Homo sapiens: one gene and its partner. The main gene of each other region encodes a partner of the protein of the gene in region 2 in a complex. Each region holds a gene or a part of one and is shown on either strand. Other genes may lie near its edges.

Region 1 (7,567 bases), on a different chromosome or scaffold from region 2:
ATGGTAGCTAAAGGAGAAAAAGGGGGTTTCGTTTACACGCTGTGAGATCACCGCAAACCTACCTTACTGTGTTGAAACGGGACAAATGCAATAGAACGCATTGGGTGGTGTGTGTCTGATCCTGGGTTCTTGTCTCCCCTAAATGCTGCCCCCCAAGTTACTGTATTTGTCTGGGCTTTGTAGGACTTCACTACGTTGATTGCTAGGTGGCCTAGTTTGTGTAAATATAATGTATTGGTCTTTCTCCGTGTTCTTTGGGGGTTTTGTTTACAAACTTCTTTTTGTATTGAGAGAAAAATAGCCAAAGCATCTTTGACAGAAGGTTCTGCACCAGGCAAAAAGATCTGAAACATTAGTTTGGGGGGCCCTCTTCTTAAAGTGGGGATCTTGAACCATCCTTTCTTTTGTATTCCCCTTCCCCTATTACCTATTAGACCAGATCTTCTGTCCTAAAAACTTGTCTTCTACCCTGCCCTCTTTTCTGTTCACCCCCAAAAGAAAACTTACACACCCACACACATACACATTTCATGCTTGGAGTGTCTCCACAACTCTTAAATGATGTATGCAAAAATACTGAAGCTAGGAAAACCCTCCATCCCTTGTTCCCAACCTCCTAAGTCAAGACCATTACCATTTCTTTCTTTCTTTTTTTTTTTTTTTTAAAATGGAGTCTCACTGTGTCACCCAGGCTGGAGTGCAGTGGCATGATCGGCTCACTGCAGCCTCTGCCTCTTGGGTTCAAGTGATTCTCCTGCCTCAGCCTCCTGAGTAGCTGGGATTTCAGGCACCCGCCACACTCAGCTAATTTTTGTATTTTTAGTAGAGACGGGGTTTCACCATGTTGTCCAGGCTGGTCTGGAACTCCTGACCTCAGGTGATCTGCCCACCTTGGCTTCCCAAAGTGCTGGGATTACAGGCATGAGCCACCATGCTGGGCCAACCATTTCTTGGTGTATTCATGCCAAACACTTAAGACACTGCTGTAGCCCAGGCGCGGTGGCTCACACCTGTAATCCCAGCACTTTGGAAGGCTGAGGCGGGCGGATCACAAGGTCACGAGTTCAAAACTATCCTGGCCAACACAGTGAAACCCCGTCTCTACTAAAATACAAAAAAATTAGCCGGGTGTGGTGGTGCATGCCTTTAGTCCTAGCTATTCAGGAGGCTGAGGCAGGGGAATCGCTTGAACCCGAGAGGCAGAGGTTGCAGTGAGCTGAGATCGCACCACTGCACTCCAGCCTGGTTACAGAGCAAGACTCTGTCTCAAACAAAACAAAACAAAACAAAAACACACTACTGTATTTTGGATGGATCAAACCTCCTTAATTTTAATTTCTAATCCTAAAGTAAAGAGATGCAATTGGGGGCCTTCCATGTAGAAAGTGGGGTCAGGAGGCCAAGAAAGGGAATATGAATGTATATCCAAGTCACTCAGGAACTTTTATGCAGGTGCTAGAAACTTTATGTCAAAGTGGCCACAAGATTGTTTAATAGGAGACGAACGAATGTAACTCCATGTTTACTGCTAAAAACCAAAGCTTTGTGTAAAATCTTGAATTTATGGGGCGGGAGGGTAGGAAAGCCTGTACCTGTCTGTTTTTTTCCTGATCCTTTTCCCTCATTCCTGAACTGCAGGAGACTGAGCCCCTTTGGGCTTTGGTGACCCCATCACTGGGGTGTGTTTATTTGATGGTTGATTTTGCTGTACTGGGTACTTCCTTTCCCATTTTCTAATCATTTTTTAACACAAGCTGACTCTTCCCTTCCCTTCTCCTTTCCCTGGGAAAATACAATGAATAAATAAAGACTTATTGGTACGCAAACTGTCATCCCCTTGTCAGATGTTTTTGCCCTTCCGATAACTCCCACTTTCTTGGATTGGGACTCAGAAGTTTTTCTGTTCAGCCAGTTTGTTAGGAATGAATCTTGAAAGTTCAGTCCTCTTAGCACCTCATTACAGTGGATTTTTGTTTCTAGTTAAGGCCTCTTGTCCTTTCCTTGGAAGCTTCCACATTCAAGAGGGGATTAGGGGCTTGGCATGCATAAGAATGGGGTTGCCTGTGCCACTGGCTGGGATGAAAGGATGGGGCCATGGCTTGGGGCATGAGACCCTAATAATACTTTGTCCCCTACTCCTCAAAGCCTTTTACAAATCTTAATTAATTAACCGCTTGCAGCACCCCAAGGAGAGAAATGTGTTGTGGAACTGGGGAAATTGAGGCCAGAGGAGATTCACTGACTAGCTATAAATGCAACATTTTCTTTGAGCCAAAGTTTGCTAGCTTTTTAATGAACATCGAGTTTTTTTATATACATCACAAGTCATCAAGCAAGAACACTGAATTTTAAACATCTATTCCCACTAAGGGAAGGAGGATTTTAAAAAGGAAAAAAAAAAAACTTGATTGGAGGCAAACCAAGTATATTAACACCGTGCAAGGAAACAGGGAAACTGGTTTAAATCCTCAAGCCTGACATTATAAGAGTAAGGGTAAGAAGTTTCATAATCTACTCCAGGGACTTTGTGGCTCCTTAATTGTACCAAAAGTCAAAGCTGACAGTAGAACCTCATGAAGCAGCAAACTACTAGTGGACTTCATTAAATTGTCTTGCTGCAAAATGAAGTAACTTGGACTGAAATTTACTCCCCAGGCTGCAAAGCAGGAAGGATGGAAAAGCTCAACACTATTCATTTCTACTCATCTCTAGGGCTTTCTTTCATCATGTTGCTGTGTTAAAATAACCCCTTTCATTAGAAAGAGTGGAAGACATAATCAATTAGAAAGTGCCAATAAAACATCTCTTCCTTGCCTCATTTCTTTAATAATATTGTAAAATGAAATGCGACAAAAAGGTTCTTTGACAATTGTGAATTTTTATTCCACTCAAAACATAATACTACATAAAGTTGTATTATGCTTTGCAAGAAATACTGGTTGTGGCCGGGCGCGGTGGCTCACGCCTGTAATTCCAGCACTTTGGAAGGTCTAGGCAGGCAGATAACGAGGTCAAGAGATCAAAACCATCCTGGCCAAAATGGTGAAACCCTGTCTCTACTAAAAATACAAAAATTAGCCAGGCTTGGTGGCACGCGCCTGTAGTCCCAGCTACTCAGGAGGATGAAGCAGGAGAAACGCTTGAACCCGGGAGGCGGAGGCTGCAGTGAGCCGAGATCGCGCCACTGCACTCCAGCCTGGGCGACATAGCCAGACTCCGTCTCTAAATAAATAAATAAATAAATAAATAAATAAAAATAATACTGGTTGTATAAGAATCTGTAAAGAATTTTTTCCTCCTCTTTCAATTTTGAGAAAATTGAACTACAAATTTGTTTTGTGAGCCTAGAATTCTTGCAACCCTTTTTTTCGTAAAGGTTCAGTAGAGCTAATGCCCTTAACTTTTCTACCAGGGTTAATTTCTGTTATTTTCATTTATGTACTGCCAAAGCGAGCACCTTTCTGTTATTTTAGAAGTCATGCTTTTTTTTTTTTTCTTTTTTCAGACAGAGTTTCGCTCCTGTTGCCCAGGCTGGAGTGCAGTGGCCTGATCTTGGCTCACCGCAACCTCCGCCTCCCGGGTTCAAGCGATTCTCTTGCCTCACCCTCCCGAGTAACTGGGATAACAGGCGCCCGCCACCACGCCCGGCTCATTTTCTGTATTTTTAGTACAGACGGGGTTTCACGATGTTGGTCAGGCTGGTCTCAAACTCCTGACCTCAGGTGATCCGTTCGCCTCGGCCTCCCAAAGTGCTGGGATTACAGGCGTGAGCCACCGCGCCTGGCCTAGAAGTCATTCTTATGGCAGAAATCTTTCTGGCCTTACCCCTTCTCTTGAGTTCGTTGGGATAGGTCTTGGGAATCCACAAATCCTAAAATATGCGTGCCTTAAGTCGGCACAAAATAGATTAATATTCTGCGCGTCTGTAAGATTGGCTGCGGCTAGAAACTCCTTCCCAGACGATTAAATCCACTAAATAAAATACGAAACGGTAACGAGATAATTTTTAAGAGTATGCACCAGTGCTCTAATGAAGCCCGGTTCTGCGGCATTCCAAGGTAAGGACGCTGCCTTACCCAGTCTCTCAGCAGTCCTAAGCTGCCTTCGACGGCCGAGAAGCGCCTCGATTCTTGCCCCTGGCTCATTTCCCTGGCGCGTTTTCCAGACGCCTCCGCTCCCAACGCTGGGCTCAACCCTGTCTTCCCCAGCTGGTCTCCCAGCACGTGGCCTGGAGCCCAGCCTCCCGCCCCGCTCGGTCACGTGAGCCTGGCTCTCACCCGCGCCGGCTTCCACACCCCGCGGGACTGAGAACCGCCCTCCCACTAGCTCGCAGGCGCAGGCGCAGGGCAGGGTCCCCTCAGTTTGGGTGACGGAAGGGGCGTGTCGCAGCGCCCAAAGATGACGTGTTCTGCCAGCGCCACGTCATGAGGAAGTGCCGGCCCACTGAAGCCGTGGGGACGCGCCCAGCGGAGCTAATCAGGTGCCACTGAACTGAAGGGGTGAACTAGAGGAGAAGAGGGTGACTGGGCGGGGAGCAGCTGCGGGAGAAGCAAAGGGACGACTGAGGGAATAATCAGGAGACCACTGAGGCGTGAAGTACTAGGCGTGCGATAACTGAAGGAGTTAGTAACTGGGAGCACAGAGTTGGAAACAGCTTAGGGGAAGATGGAGAAGGAAGAAACGGGGAATGATCAAGATGTGGGCACCATGATGTGGCAGGAAACCGACTTAGATGTTCAGAAGAAGTCAGTGCAGATACGGAGGAAATGGGAATGGGAAGAAGTCTGCAAAGCCAGGAGAACCGAGGAAAGGCTTTTGCCTCCAGAGGTCACATTGCGTTATAAAACTCTGGGTGGTAAAAGATTATAGGCTTAGACCAGTGTCTTTGGATTCTAATGCTGGCTGCTCTCCATAGTCCATCTGATTCCCCAGAAGTCAGTTATAGCTCTTCGCAAACCTTGGTGACTTCTTATTTTCTTTCTTGTTTATCCAAGATTACCTGGCTGGTGTTTGCTTGTTCTGGAGTGATCTTCTGACTGGAAAAGAACTATGTCATGGATCAAGGAAGGAGAGCTGTCACTTTGGGAGCGGTTCTGTGCCAACATCATAAAGGTGAGCAATGGCCCAGAGCACCGGTTGGCCTTCTGGTCAGTTGGATAATCTTATATAAAAACCTGTTATTAAAGTTGATGATGTTAAGTGCAATTCATGATGTTAAGTGGAATTTAGCAAGGAAACCAAAGAGTCTTAGAATGGTAACTTCCAGGTCTACATTTCTGGTAGACTTTTGTCCTAACTCTGATATTTTCTGGAAGCCCAGGCCTCTTAATGTCACTGGGCAGCCTAGACTGCTAAGTATTCTTTATAGAGAACTGAAATTTGTTTCCCTGGAACATTGATCCATTGTTCCATGTACTGTCTTCTTGATTTAAATAGGTTAATCTTTGATATATTCTTTGATCTGTCAGTAGAGCTGGGCCCGGTCACTCACGCCTGTAATCCCAGCAATTTGGGAGGCTGAGGTGGGCAGATTGTTTGAGCTCAGGAGTTGAGACCAGCCTGGGCAACATGGCAAAACCCCGATTCTCCAAAAAATTAAAAAAATAGCAGGGCTTGGTGGTGTGCACCTGTAGTCCCAGCTACTCGGAAGGCTGAAGTGGGAGAATTTCTTGAGCCCAGGTCAAAGCTGCAGTGAGTCATGATTGTGCCACCACACTCCAGCCTGGGTGACAGAACGGGACTGTCTCAAAAAAAAGAGTTCAGAACAAGACTCTGTCTCAAAAAAAAAAAAAAAAAAAGAGTTTGGGCTCTAGACGCAGACAAACATGGGTGAAATTCCTGTTCTTTTTTTTATTTTGAGATGGAGTCTCGCTCTGTCGCCCAGGCTGGAGTGCAATGGCGCAATCTTGGCTTACTGCAACCTTCATCTGCCAAGTTCAAGCAATTCTCTTGCCTTAGCCTCCCAAGTAGCTGGGGTTACAGGCATATGCTACCACACATGGCTAATTTTTATATTTTTAGTAGAGATGGGATTCTCATATTGGCCAGGCTGGTCTCGAACTCCTGACCTCAGGTGATCCACCTATCTCAGCCTCCCAAAGTGCTGGGATTATAGGACTGAGCCACTGCACCTGGCCTGAAAGTCCAGTTCTATCATTTAGTAATCATGTGACTTTAACAACTGTAGAATTATCATGAGAATTTATGAGACATTAATATAAAGCAGTTAGCATAATGTCTAGCAGTTCTTAATTATTATTAGGATTGTCTTTCAGACATTTGAAGACTATTATCTCCTATCTTCCCCAAATCTTCCCTCAGCTTTTTCTCTAGGAATCACAGCAATATTATATCTGCCTAAGACAGGTTTGAGATTGGGGCCAGTCAGCTTGGTTTTGTTTTTCAACCACAGGCTGTCAAGCAGCAGGTAGTAATGAATTTATGAGTCAGTAACCTTTATACAAGCCCCACACATGCTCACAAACAAATGCCAAGTGATCTCAAGCAGTCCAGGAAATGGGAAGTATCTCCTTGGGGAACCACTGCAGTGGTATGTTTGGAAGAACAAGCTGCATAACTTGAATGGATTTTGGGGGCTGGAAAGGCTGTATGTGAGACAGAAGTAGAAAAAGGAGAAGTGTTGATGAGGAAGCAGTCAGGGAAGAGCCCTCCCAGGTGAGGAAAAATAGGCTAAGGAGTCCATTTGTGTTATGGGAGACAACTCAAAGCTGCTCCAAGCCAAATAAGGGTTTTGTTTTTTGTGGTTTCTTTTTTGAGATGCAGTCTTACTCTGTTGCCCAGGCTAGAGTGCAGTGGTGCAGTCTTGGCTTACTGCAACCTCTGTCTCCTGGGTTCAAGCGATTCTCCCACCTCAGCCTCCCCAAGTAGCTGGGATTATAGGCACCGGCCACCATGCCTGGCTAATTTTTTTTTTTTTTTTTTTTAGTAGAGTTGGGGTTTCACCATGTTGGCCAGGCTGGTCTCGAACTCCTGGCCTCAAGTGATCTGCCCACCTCAGCCTCCTAAAGTACTGGGATTACAGGCTTGAGCCACCACGTCCGGCCCCAAGTAAGTTTTGTTTGGCTCAAAAAAAGTCTTTTTTGTTTGCTTTGAAAAACAATTTTTTTTTTTCAGACAGAGTCTCACTCTGTCGCCCAGGCTGGAGTGCAGTGGCACAATCTCAGCTCACTGTACCCTCTGCCTCCCCGGTTCAAACAATTCTCCTGCCTCAGCCTCCCGAGTAGCTGGGATTACAGGCGCTCGCCACCACGCCCGGCTAATTTTTCTTTATTTTTAGTAGAGACAGGGTTTCACCATTTTGGCCAGGCTGGTCTTAAACTCCTGACCTCGTGATCCACCCGCCTCGGCCTCCCAAAGTGCTGGGATTACAGGCATGAGCCACTGCGCCCGGCTGAAAAGCAAAATTTTAATAAAAATCCTGATGTTTGGTTTTCTTGCAAGATCACCAGATCCAGCAATGTTGTGCCCCAGTTCCTGTGTGTCAGCAGTTGGCTAGAGGTCAGGAATTAGTGCCTTTTTTTTTTTTTTTTTTTTTTTTTGAGACAGA
Region 2 (7,273 bases):
TTTTTTGTTTGTTTTTTTTAAAAGAATAAGAAATATTCCTGAAATAAGAGACCTTCAATTAGTCCATTCTTGGTTTTGATTCGTTCATACATTCATTTACAGGTGACAGTTGGGGTCTGTTAAGTACCAGATACTCTTCCAGACATGGGAATGCAGCAGTGTACTCATGGAACTTAGATTTCAGTGGGAGTCTGACAAATAATATACGTGGGTAAATATGTGGTAATGTAAGTGCAATGAGGAAAAGTAAAGCAGAGAAGGGAAGATAGGAATGTTGAAAGTCAGTGGTGTAGGAAGGGGTACAGTTTTAAATAGGGAGGCCAAGGAGAGGCTCTTTGAATATAGACTTGAAAATATAGGCCATGTGGATATGTAAGAATCACTCAGAGGGAGTATAGACATGTAAGCTTTATTTAGTGTTTCTTTTTCAGTGGTTTTTTTTTTTTTTTTTTTTTGAGACGGAGTCTCGCTCTGTCACCCAGGCTGGAGTGCAGTGGTGTAATCTAGGCTCACTGCAACCTCCGTCTCCCAGATTCAAGTTCTCCTGTCTCAGCCTCCCCAAGTAGCTGGGACTACAGGTGATGCGCGCCACCCCGCCCTGCTAATTTTTGTATTTTCAGTAGAGACAGGGTTTTGCCATATTGGCCAGGCTGGTCTCAAACTCCTGACCTCAGGTGATCTGCCTGCCTCAGCCTCCCAAAGTGCTGGGATTACAGGTGTGAGCCACTGCGCCCGGCCATATTCAGTGTTTCTAAATAAATGTCTATTTAAGCTTATTTCTAGATAGATATTTAACTATGAAAAATCCTATTGACATACTCGTAAATGCCACTGGGATACAAGAAGTACAAGAAATGGTGTCTCTTAAAGAGTTTCCACTCAAGTAAGGATGTCCATTAAAAATTAACACAAGCTAATATAGAAATGCTAAGTGAATGGCAGATACTTTAAGGAGCGAAAAATGGAAAATTTCCCGGGTTACCTCCATATTTGTCTGGTAAGGAAGGGAGCAACACCTGAGCTGGACCTAGTCAAAAAGATAGAATTGGGATTGGCGTGAACAGTGTTCTCTGTGTGTGTGAATGGGGATTTCCCTAATGGCAGCATTCTCATTAGACTAGGTTCAGTAATAGCATTGAGTAGAGTGTTGGGAGCAGTGAATTTATGTAATGAACAGTTGGGAAATGAGGTAGGATGAAGGCTTGGACAGCTATTCTGGTTACCTACTGCTTTGTAGAAATCTACCCAAAGCATAGTGTTTTAAAACAACAATTTATATATTGACTTAGTTCAGTTGGGCAGTTTTTCCTTTGGGTCACTCATAGCTTTCATTCAGATAGAGTCTGGGACCCAAAGGTTTCTCCTTATGTCTGGTGCCTGGTTTTTGATGGCTGAAATAGATGGGGCAGGTTGGTCATCTGGCTTCACATGGTCTGGAGGTTGACTTCAGGGTAACCAGTTAACTAACTTCCCCCAGAACAAATGTTTCCAGAGACTTGGCCAAAGGCTGAAGCTGAAAGATGTCTTAGGACCTAACCTAGGAAATCATGCAGTGTTATTTTTGCTATGTTCTCTTGGTCAGAGAAGTCTCACATCTGTTCTGCATCAAGAAAGTGGAGAAATGGACTTCACCTCTCAATGAGAAAATGGCTTGTGTAGAAAGGTTGGGTGAGGATTTGAAGGGAGATGGACGGGCAGCCACTTTGAAGACAAGCTTACCACCTTACATTTTATTCTGTCCTACACCCCTTTGCTCTCAAATTTGTACTTAAATTCGTTCTAATTATGGTTGGATCTAGATAACAACATTTAATCCTTAGACTAAAAGATCTATTATATTGACCTTAATTTGACTGCCAGCAAACTGATCTTTTTGTTTTTCACTACCTGCAATATTTCTTGATTATAATAGAGTCTGCAAGTAATTCTTTCATCTTTCAAAAATTCAGGTTGTTCTCTCAGGACAGTGATCAGGAATTTTTTGAGTTCAGAATTCTAGCGAGATTTGGCTGTTCTGTCTATATGATTATAATTTAAGAAATGACCATAACTGGGATGGTACAAGAACCAGGGGTTGGGGTAAATGGATTTTATTGTTCTAGCCTTAGCAGTGTTGTTTGCCTGTGTCTCACATGCAGGTACACTTGGCTCCAAGTTATCTGGATATGTATTGTTATCTTAAGTGATGGAACTTGTTCTTATTTCCTGGCTTTATTGTGCCTTGCTGGGAACCTTGCTGTTGATTGGTATTTTTCAAAACCTGTCTGTGGACCATCTGTGAATTAGTCATTGGGGATGCTTATAAAAAATGCAGATTCAACACACTTAGTAATCAAACTTAATGAGGGAACTGGGACCTGGGCGTCTCTGTTTTTATCAAGCTACCTGTATGATACTTCTGCACACTGAAGTTTAACCCTAACACAGATCAAAGGATACTCTGCTACTTGCCTTACATTAGATTATTTATATTTCATGTTCCTTTTCATGATTGAGGATAATTTGGGGTAAGCCTTAGGATTATTTGCTGTAAATTGGAATGATCCAGAATAAGGCATTGCCTTCTGTGTGAGAATTCAACAGTAAGACAACAAATTTTTTTTGTGTGCTGCTCTTTCTAGTGCTATTTCCTTAGTTTATTTAAATCGAAGCTAGGTTGCTTTTGAAATGGTTTTTGGGTACAGGTTTCTCACAGTAACATTTTAAAAGTCTGCCCAGTGTATCCTATCTTTTCAACCTGTTTCTCAATGCTTTGCATACCTTTTGCTATGTCTGTATTTAGGTATTTAATGTTCCAGTTTCCTGGAACTCCCTCTTCTCCTTTTTCTGGCAAATGGCTGTATGCCTACCAAGAGGCTATTGTTCATCTTTTCCGAGTCAATCCTAAATATCACCTTGTATATTTTTGCCTTTCTTGACTATTCACTCCGTTCCCTATCTTACTATATCTCTGAATCTCCTCAGAACTTCAAACATCTCTAAAGGTACTTCTGTTCTCTGCTTTGTGTAGTCATATTTGTATGTATATGTGCATAAACTTTCTTACTAGATTATAAGCTCCACAGATGCTATCCATCCTTCTCATTTTTGCTTTTCTTACAGAGTGTATCTTGGTGTTATGCATGTAATGAATAGTTAATATGTGTTCCTTGAATTCAAAGAAGGGCCGCATTTCCTGTAGATAAGAATAATGAACTGAGTTGCACTCTCTGCTTCCCAACACAATACCCAGAAGCCTTAAAGTAATGGAGGAAAATGAACATAGTTTACCCTAGTTTACTTAGTTGGCACAGTGACACAGATGCTATTGAGAAGTATGATTTTCTTAAGTTTATTCTCCTTATGTTGAAATACAGAGGTGCCGGAAATGTTGAAAGTCTAAATATAAATGTGATTACATTTGACATACTGAATAGTACAACCTAGTGTTTATCTTCCCTCATGTGGAAACTCATGTAAGGGAGCATTCTATTCTTAATCTCTACCTTTGTGTAGTTGACTTTTTGTACAGTTTCACATTTATCTTAACATCCTGAAATGTCCTCTTCACCTTTTTCTGGCAAAGGGCTAGCTACCTGTCAAAAGACTGTTGATTCTTTTCTTTTTTGACATGGAGTCTGGCTCTGTCGCCCAGGCTGGAGTGCAGTGGTGCGATCTCGGCTCACTGCGACCTCTGCCTCCGGGGTTCAAGCTATTCTCCTGCCTCAGCCTCCTGAGTAACTGGGATTACAGGCATATGCCACCATGCCCACCTAATTTTTTGTATTTTTAGTAGAGATGGGGTTTCACCATGTTGGCCAGGCTGGTCTTGAACTCCTGGCCTCAAGATCCACCTGCCTCAGCCTCCCAAAGTGCTGGGATTACAGGTGTGAGCCACCGTGCCCAGCTTGTTGATTCTTGTAAGTTCATCCTAACTATCATCTCTGAAGTAGCCTCTCTCGACTGTTCCATCCCCAGTCTTACTCTGTCTTTGAAAAATTCTATCCTGCTTTTGTTAACTTTTTAAATGACTTTATTCTCTATGTACCCTTTTGTTTAACTATAGTACTGGATCTGTGTATTAAAGTAAACCTTTGCTGAGTGTGGTGGCTCATGCCTGTAATCCCAGCAGTTTAGGAGGCTGACATGGGAGGATTGCTTGAGCCCAGGAGTTTAAGACCAGCCTGGGGAATATAGTGAGACCCGCATCTCTGAAAAATAAAAATAGAAAATGAGCTAGACATGGTGTGTGCCTGTAGTCCCAACTACTCAGGAGGCTGAGGTGGGAGGATTACTTGAGTCCTGGAGGTTGGGGCTACAGTGAACCATGGTTGCACCACTGTACTCTAGCCGGGGTGAGACCCTGCCTCAATCAATCAATCAATAAATCAAACCTGTATCTTAAGCGTAATAATTATCCTTTGTTGAACTTTTAGTCTGTACTGGATACTATAGAAAAGTGCCTTAAGTCATTAGCAGTTTTACAGATAAACTGAGATTTAAAAAGCCAGGTTCCAAATCTAGTAAGGAGCAGATCTAGAATTTGAACCAGATTTTTATTCTAGAGCTTTTGTGCTTAACCGTTACATTATTTTGATTTCCACTGGTAAAAGAATGTGACGACAGTAGTCACTTTTAGTACTGTTTCTGATTCTTTTGGGTCATCTTCAAGCTTTGGTAAACAGGCACTTATCTACAGGTTATAGAAATTATTTGTAAAAGATATTTAAAGACTAATAGAGATTTCTTCATCCCACTAGTGTACATGTTCATCCTTTGAGTTATAGGACACATTTTTTAAAAAACCAGCTAAAAATTTAATGTTATGGTGCTCCAGCTTTGTGTTGAGCTGTTAGTTTGTCAGGTGAGCAGATTCTGTAAATATATTCTCATTTTAAAAATGTCCAACAAGATGCCGAAAAAACCCACATGGATTGTTCATTTTACATATCTCTTGTGCTGACAAGCTAGGACTTAAATCTAGCCCTCATTTTGTTATATACTTTGTCACCATTACACATACCTGTTCTCTTACTACAGCACTGCAGTATAATTTTCTACAGTATAATTGTTGTTCTGTGAGGTGTCCTGAAGGGCTCTCTCCTGAAATAAAATAGCTTAATGGCCTATGTATTTTGTTATGATTTATTTTCTTATGACTACTTCAGTCATGTAAAATTTTAATGGTAGATTTTTTTCATTTTAAATAATTGCTCCATAAATATATGTTTTCTTCTCTGAAGATTGCTCTCTAGTCGTTTTATAATTGAGTTGTTAGAGGTAACTTAGGTGACTAGTTTAAAAAGAAAAAGAGGTAGGCCAATTTTTAGAACAGGCATTTATTTATAAATAGAGATTACTTTAATTCCATAACCAGTGAAGTGCTTAATAATGAGGAGAGATTGTTTCAATGCTTATCTCATTTTTTTCTCTTGTTTGTTCTTGTAAGTACTTGCTATTATTTCTTAAAAAGTCTGTTTCTGTAGAAGGGAATAAATAATCACAGTAAAAATTCCAGTTTCAGATTTAAAAGAGATAGTAAATGTATTTTAAAAGTCTCATTTTATAGACTTGATTATACATTTCACATACCTTTTAAAATAATCAGTATTTGAGGAATGCAGATAAGATTTGCTGATGGAATACTTGTCTAATTAAACTCCTTGTGACTTGGTTCCCTTAATTTAAAAAAAGTATGCATGTCATGACTTTATTATTCAGTTAATGTGTAAGACTGAATACAGTATGTAACCTAGTAGGTAGATTAGGCAAATTAACTTCTACTCTACTCTGTTTTCTTCTAATCCATATGTGTGGCTTCTCCTCTGTTGTACTTCCAAATGTTGTGGTGTCCTAGAGTTTGGAGCTGTATGTATGCCTTTGTCTTTCTGTTACTCACTTTGTTGCAACTACTCAACTCTGCTAGTGTAGTCAAAAATGGCCATAAGCAAATGTGGCTGTTTTCCATAGCAGTAGTTTGCTGACCCCTGTCCTGCAGATAATCTCCCCAATCCCATGGATTTAAATGTCACGTGTGTGCTGACACACAGGTTTGGGCTGGAAATACAGTCCTGATATCTCCCATAATTCCAGACTTCTATATCTAACTCCTTGTCTAAAATAATTTATTAGGTCAATCCTATGCCTTGTATGTCTAAAACAGTACTTTTTGAGACCTAATCCTTGTTTTAGTCTCCATTGCAGCCATCCAAGTTTAAATTACCATTGTTCTTTCACCTGGATTACTGTAGTAGCCTCCTAATTGATCTCCATTTTTCTATCCTGGTCCCTGTATAATCCATTCTTCACCTACCAGCGAGGTGATCTTTTTTTGATGGCATCATTTGGACTGAATAAAACCCTCCAACAGCTTCTCGTTGTAGTTGGAATGCTTTCGAAATTCATTACCAAGGCCCACAGGCCCCTTCATGTTACGGCCACTGCTGACATTTCTGGTGTCCATATGATACTCTACTTTCCTCGAATGTGATGAGAAACCTGACTGCTGAGAGAATATGCAATAGAGTGATTCCTATAATAGCAATCACCTGGGGAAGTATTGATTTTTATATTTTAAGAACTGAAAAAAACAGCAAAAAACTTTTTGTTTAATACAGTTGTTAAAATAATCATGAGACTAGCACCAAGGAAGGATACATATTACACAAGTAAAAAAAGCAGGATACAAATTGCATAATCATATACACTAGGATTACATATGCATGTGGACAAAGACTAGAAAATATTGAGAAGTCGAAATAGTTGTGTTACAATGGTAAGGTTAGGGACATTCCAGTAGTTATGGGGAAGGTTAGGGAACATTCCCTTATTATCTAAACATTGAACATCTTATTTTTTAAGACTAGAATTTAAAACAAATGTTTCTTAGAATCTAAAATGAAGTCTTCATTTGGCCCCCAAAATGCATACCTGCTGTTTATTAAGAAATAACAAAAGCATGGTAGTCTTTCTGAGGTATAACTTTGCTAGAATAATATTCTTCTTTCACGGAAGTTGAAGATTTTGTGGTTTTACTTTTATTTTTTTCAACTTTTATTGTAGATTCAAAGGATATGTGTGCAGTTTCCTTACTTTGGAAATTGAAGATTTTCTCGTGTGTGTTTTGTCATAATGGCTATTTGATATATCTTTTCTTTCTTTCTTTTTTTTTTTAGAGACAGGGTCTTACTTTGTTGCCCAGGCTGGAGTGCAGTGGTGCGATCATAGTTAACTGCAGCCTTGAACTCCTGGGCAGCCTCCTGAGTAGGTTGTACTACAGGCACAAGCCACCATG

The links. The genes of interacting proteins can lie anywhere in the genome.
Region 1: the proteins of NUS1 (region 2) and DHDDS are in contact, whole or in part, in a crystal structure (PDB 7PAX), measured with the Homo sapiens proteins. Residues at the interface, in NP_612468.1 of Homo sapiens: His137, Gln138, Pro193, Glu194, Lys197, Ala198, Ile200, Val201, Ala204, Gln205, Phe207, Cys208, Gln209, Val211, Ala212, Arg217, Pro218, Thr219, Leu221, Asp222, Val223, Leu226, Asp237, Pro246, Val247, Asp248, Ser249, Thr250, Leu251, Gly252; in NP_995583.1 of Homo sapiens: Arg37, Arg38, Glu81, Asn82, Lys84, Arg85, Arg159, His160, Ile162, Ser163, Val166, Arg167, Met169, Ala170, Trp171, Val173, Glu174, Pro180, Ser181, Ile183, Ser184, Glu185, Leu188, His199, Glu209, Val210, Arg211, Leu212, Ser213, Asp214.

Annotation. Positions count from the first base shown.
Region 1 is NC_000001.11:26,427,897-26,435,463, forward strand, and holds the start of DHDDS (dehydrodolichyl diphosphate synthase complex subunit DHDDS), read left to right. Parts: upstream 1-4,424; 5' UTR 4,425-4,480; exon of another isoform or gene 4,481-4,622; intron 4,623-4,994; 5' UTR 4,995-5,049; coding exon 5,050-5,112; intron 5,113-7,567. UniProt on the Homo sapiens protein: With NUS1, forms the dehydrodolichyl diphosphate synthase (DDS) complex, an essential component of the dolichol monophosphate (Dol-P) biosynthetic machinery.
Region 2 is NC_000006.12:117,678,244-117,685,516, forward strand, and holds part of NUS1 (dehydrodolichyl diphosphate synthase complex subunit NUS1), read left to right. Parts: intron 1-7,273. UniProt on the Homo sapiens protein: With DHDDS, forms the dehydrodolichyl diphosphate synthase (DDS) complex, an essential component of the dolichol monophosphate (Dol-P) biosynthetic machinery.